Linked DNA regions of Homo sapiens: region 2 is linked to region 1. The links come from fine-mapping of genetic effects on gene expression. Tissue or cell type: whole blood. Region 1 holds a variant in brackets; the other region holds the start of a gene. All regions are shown on one strand. Distances are from middle to middle.

The links. PIP is the estimated chance that this variant, and not a neighbour inherited with it, causes the effect.
Region 2: MCM9 starts here. The variant in region 1 is fine-mapped to the expression of MCM9 in whole blood (INTERVAL, PIP above 0.99).

Annotation. Positions count from the first base shown.
Region 1 is chr6:118,866,674-118,869,596 of GRCh38, forward strand. All of the region lies in intron 8 of MCM9 (minichromosome maintenance 9 homologous recombination repair factor), which reads right to left. Among named protein-coding and RNA genes, the nearest start is that of ASF1A, 26 kb to the right of the region's middle. The variant C/CTTT (reference allele first, on the strand shown) is at 1,206.
Region 2 is chr6:118,933,401-118,936,323 of GRCh38, forward strand. It overlaps MCM9 (minichromosome maintenance 9 homologous recombination repair factor), which reads right to left and starts at 1,759. Exons shown (of 14, transcript NM_017696.3): 1 at 1,491-1,759. LOC124901389 (a long non-coding RNA gene) reads left to right here and starts at 1,515. Exons shown (of 2, transcript XR_007059729.1): 1 at 1,515-1,590. RefSeq lists silencers at 1,008-1,257, 1,508-1,937.

The DNA.
Region 1 (2,923 bases):
AAGCAATTTATGGGGCACCATCAGGTAAAACAACTTACGTATTATTGGCATGCCAGAAGGAGAAGAGAAAGGGATAGAAAACACATCCAAAGAAGTAATGGCAGAAAACTTCCCAAGCCTGGGTAAGAAGATAGAAAGCCAGAGACAGGAAGCCCAAACAATACCAAATAAGATGAATCCAAAGAAACCTATGCCAAGACAATCACAATAAAATTATAAAAAGTTAAAACACAGAGTGTTGAAAGCAGTAAAGTAAAAGCAAATCATCACATACAAAAGAACCTTCTCATAAGACTATCAGTGGATTTCTCAAGAGCAACCTTGCAGGTCAGAAGAGAGTGAGATGATACATTCAACATCCTAAAAGGAAAAAAAAAAACCCCATCAACCAATAACTCTATACTCAGCAATTCAGTCTTTTAAAAAAAGGGGGTGATAAAGACTTTCTCAAACAAAAAGTTTAAGCATTTGCCACCATTAGACCTCTTTTACAAAAAAAACGCTAAAGGGAGTTTTTCATGCTGAAGGAAGAAGACACTATTAGTAACATGAAGACATAAGAGAGTATAGTCATGTGCTACATAATGACATCAACAGTGGTCCCATAAAATTATAATGGAGCTGAAAAACTCATATTGCCTAGTGATGGTGATGTCCATTATAACGCTGTAACACAAAGCATTACTTGTGTTTGTGGTGATGCTGGTGTAAACAAATGTACTGCTCCGTTAGTCATATAAAAGTGTACAGTAATGTTCTAAGCCCTTATATTCACTCACTACTCACTCACTGACTAATCCAGCGCAACTTCCAGTCCTGGAAGCTTCATTCACAATAAGTACCCTATGCAATTTTATACGGCAATTTTACTGTATATTTTATATATTTAGATATGTTTAGATACACAATTACTTATCATTGTGTCACAAACTGCCTATAGTATTCCATACAGTAACATGCTGTACAGGTTTGTAGCCTAAGAGCAAAAGAGTATACCATGTAGACTAGGTGTATAGTAGATTATACCATCTAGGGTTGTGTAAATACACTCAATGATGTTCATACAATGACAAAATCACCTAATAATGCATTTCTCAGAATGTATCCCCATTGTAAAGTGATATATGACTGTATATTGTCAAATCCAAAATACTCTAGTAATACAATGGGGTTGGGTAAATTAATTATATTTCTTTTTTCTTTTT[C/CTTT]TTTTTCTTTTTTTTTGAGATGAAGTCTCACTCTGGTGCCCAGGCTGGAATGCAATGGTGTGATCTCAGCTCACTGCAACCTCCACCTCCTGGGTTCAAGCAATTCTCCTTCCTCAGCCTCCAGAGTAGTTGGGACTACAGGCACGTGCCACCACGTCTGGCTAATTTTTGTATTTTTAGTAGAGACGGGGTTTCACCATGTTGGCCAGGCTCGTCTTGAACTCCTGACCTTGTGATCCACCCACCTCGGCCTCCCAAAGTGCTGGGATTACAGGTGTGAGCCACTGCACTCAGCCAATTAATTATATTTCTAATAAAAAGGTTAAACTGTTAAAAGAACTAAAGCTACAATAATTTTTAAGGAATGCAAATTATAAAAAGACAAAGTATGACATCAAAAATACAAAATGTGTGAGGAGGAAAAATAAAAGTGTAGACTTTGTGTATGTGATAAAAATTAAGGTGTCATCCATAGGCATGGGCAAGGACTTCATGACTTAAATACCAAAAGCAATGGCAACGAAAGCCAAAATAGACAAATGGGATCTAATTAAACTAAAGAGCTTCTGCGTGGCAAAAGAAACTACCCTCAGAGTGAACAGGCAACCTACAGAATGGGAGAAAATTTTTGCAATCTACCCATCTGACAAAGGGCTAATATCCAGAATCTACAAAGAACTCAAACAAATTTAAAAGAAAAAAAAACCCCATCAAAAAGCGGGCAAAGGATATGAACAGACACTTCTCAAAAGAAGACATCTATGCAGCCAACAGATACATGAAAAAATGCTCATCATCACTGGTCATTAGAGAAATGCAAATGAAAACCACAATGAGATACCATCTCACGCCAGCTAGAATGGCAATCATTAAAAAGTCAGGAAATAACAGATGCTGGAGAGGATGTGGAGAAATAGGAATGCTTTTACACTGTTTGTGGGTGTATAAATTAGTTCAATCATTGTGGAAGACAGTGTGGTGATTCCTCAAGGATCTAGAACTAGGATTATCATTTGACCCAGCAATCCCATTACTGGGTATATACCCAAAGGATTACAAATCATGCTACTATAAAGATACACACACGTATGTTTATGGCAGCATTATTCACAATAGCAAAGACTTGGAACCAACCCAAATGTCCATCAATGATAGACTGGATTAAGAAAATGTGGCACATATACACCATGGAATACTATGCAGCCATAAAAAAGGATGAGTTCACGTCCTTTGCAGGGACATGAAGCTGGAAACCATCATTCTCAGCAAACTATCAGAAGGACAGAAAACCAAACACCACATGTTCTCACTCATAGGTGGGAACTGAACAATGAGAACACTTGGACACAAGGTGGGGAACATCACACACCTGGGCCTATCTGGGGGTGGGGAACTGGGGGAAGGATAGCATTAGGAGAAATACCCAATGTAAATGATGAGTTGATGGGTGCAGCAAACCAACATGGTACATGTATACCTATGAATCAAACCTGCACGTTGTGCACATGTACCCTAGAACTTAAAGTATAATAATAAAAAAAATTAAGGTGTCATCAACTTAAAATGGCCTATTGTAAGTATATTTTCTGTAAGCCTCAGGGTAAACACAGAACAAACGCCTATAACAGATACACAAAAGAGAAAAGATCCAAAGCATACCAATATAGAAAGTCATCAAACCACAAAGAAGGCAAGAGAGGAAAAAGAAACAAAGGATT
Region 2 (2,923 bases), 67 kb after region 1:
GAGGCTGAGGCAGGAGAATGGCGTGAACCCGGGAGGCGGAGCTTGCAGTGAGCCGAGACCACGCCACTGCACTCCAGCCCGGGCACAGAGCGAGACTCCGCCTCAAAAAAAAAAAAAAAGAGAGAAACACTTATTTCGTTTGGAAAGAGATTGAGGACTGGAGAAGAGGTGTACTTAAATTTGACTTACTTCATTTGTCCAACATTTATTGTACTGGACTCTACAAATACGAATATTAAAGGAGACTGCTATAAAGTTCACAGTTTATCATCCTAAGTACGTGTTATACACGCTATTTGCTATATTTTGCTTTCTCTGAGAACCTACTATTCCGCAAGGTGTGAAACGTTTAAGAAGTACATATAGCAGTTAGGTCAAGAATCCTGACCACTATAGGAGGCCAGAGTGAGAGTAAGAATGAGTAAATGTATATCCAAAACAATGAGTGGAAATAAATTACGGCCTCCACGGTAATTTGTTTTTGGTTAAGCAATATAAATTCAGCCAAGTGTAAAGCAGAAAAAGCACTTGGGAAGGAATATCTCCACAATGTGGACTTTGCCCAAAAAAAAAAAAAAAAAAATCTGGACTCCCAACAGTGGCTACAAGAGAATCACTATGATTCTATTAAAGCATATTAAGTTTAGAGCCACAAATTTAGCAATTTGAAAAACAGCTCCACACAAGGCAGGAAAAGGGCAGCAGCAGAATTCAACGTTCAAATTAAGGTCAGATTAAATTTTGCCTAGTTAGGCTAGCATTTCTATGGTTATATGGACCATCGTTATTCATTCCCTTTCAACATCTATGCAAAACTGACTAATCAACTGTGTTATCAGCAGTTTGCTAAATCAATAAACGTACCTACTACCCACCCAGATAGACACTGGAGGGACTTTTTGTTTTGAGAAGGGTCATTTCACAACTTTCAAGTTCTCTTTCCTTTTCTTATTGAATATTTGGGGTCAAAATAAAATCATTTGCTTTACTTTGTCCTCTTGACCACAGCGAAGCGTCGAAAAGAAGACAGGAGAGTGCCTAACTGCACTGGCATCCCCCAGCTGTCTCCGGGAATCGCGGCAGCCCCGCCCCGCCCGCCTGCACCTGCCGGGAGCCCCGCCCCCTCCGCGCGGGCTGGCGGGACGCGCGCCCTCGGCCCCGCCCCACTCCCTCCGCCCCTCTCACTGCGGGGGCGCGCCATTTCGCGCCTCCGGGCCGCTCGGCTGCCCCAGGGGCGCCTGGCAAACGTGGAGTCGCTCGGTTTTGGAGGCATGCTTTCCAAACTTTCTAATTCACAGGGTCTTTGCACGCAGCCCCTGCCCCACAACACCTTGGCAGTCTCTGAGACTTCTGGGGCTCTTCTCCCGGGCAGCTCCCGTGCCTGTCCGGTCCCGGAGTTGAATAGTTTTTGAAGTAATGAGACGGGAACGAGACTTGGGACGAACTGGAGAAAAACATAACCGCGAAAGGAGGAGGCGGCTATCACTTACTGGCTGTGTCAGAAGTCGCCGGGAACGCGTTGCTCCCGAGGCCGAAGGGCCCAGAGAGCTCCAGCCAGGCAGCGGGTTCGTCTCCGGCGCAAGAAGGCTGGTGAGGCGGAGTGCGCGCGTGCACGTGGCCGCTCGAGGCGCCACCGGCCGCGGGGACGCGCGGGCTGTGTCGGGCGGCCTAGCGCCTGCGGCTCTGCCGGGCCTGCGCTCTCGACCGACGCCGGGCCGCGCACCGCCTCAACTTCCCTGCCCCGGCGGCTCTTCCGGATGGAGACGAGGCAGCGGGGCGGGGTGGAGCGGAGCGGGCGGATTGGGGCGGAGCCAGGAGGGTCCCGGGCGGGGAGAGGGGCGGGACCCGAGCAGTGACCTCAGGCTAAGTGGCCAGAGCAGGGTTGTGCGGCGGCTCAGATCGGATCTTAGGGTTTGTTTTTTGTCTGTCCAAGGAATTTGCCTAACCCAAGGCCACAGAGGATCTCTTCTGTGTTTTCTGACACAAGTTTTAGAATTTTAGGTTTTATATTGAGGTCTGTGATCCAATTAGAGCTAATTTTTGTCTGTGGTGCAAAGTATGGATCTTAGGTCATTTTTTTGTATGTGAATAGTGTCATTTGTTTAGAGAGCTTTCTTTTTCTCACTGAATAGCTTTTGCACCTATGTTTAAAATCAGTTGTCCCTAAAGCATCAGTTGTGGGTCTATTCTTAGACTTTCTATTCTGTTCCGACAATTTATTATATTTCTCTCTACAAAAATACCACATTGTCTTGATTCCTGTAGATTCGTAAGAGTCTTAAAATCAGATCGTGTTTGGCCTCCAATTTTTTGTTATTTTTCAAAAATGTTCTGGCTCATCTAGTCCCTTGGGTTTTCATATGAATGTTAAAATCAGCTTGTCACTTTAAAAAGTTGGGATTGTGATTGGTTACATTTCGTCTATAGATCCATGTAAGAATAATTTACATGTTAACAATATTTAGTAATGACCCTTAAAGTAAGCCTCTTCATTTATTTAGGTGTTATTTCACTCAGCAAATGTTTTGATCTTTTGTCAGGTCTAGTCTTATATAGTCCATTTTCACAGTGCTAATAAAGACATACCTGGGACTGAGTAATTTATAAAGGAAAGACGTTTAATTGACTTACAGTTCAGCATGGCTGGGGAGACTTCAGGAAACTTAAAATCATGGCAGAAGCGGGAGCAAACCTCCTTCTTCACAGGGCTGCAGGAAGGAGAAGTGAGGAGCAAGGAGGGAAAAGCCCCTTAGAAAACCATCAGATCTTGTGATACCTCACTCACTATCAGAGAACAGCATGGGAATAACCACCCCCATGATTCAGTTACCTCCCACCGGGTCCCTCCCACAACACCTGGGGATTATGGTAACTACAGTTCAAGATGAGGTTTGGGCAGGGACACAGCCAAACCATATCACCC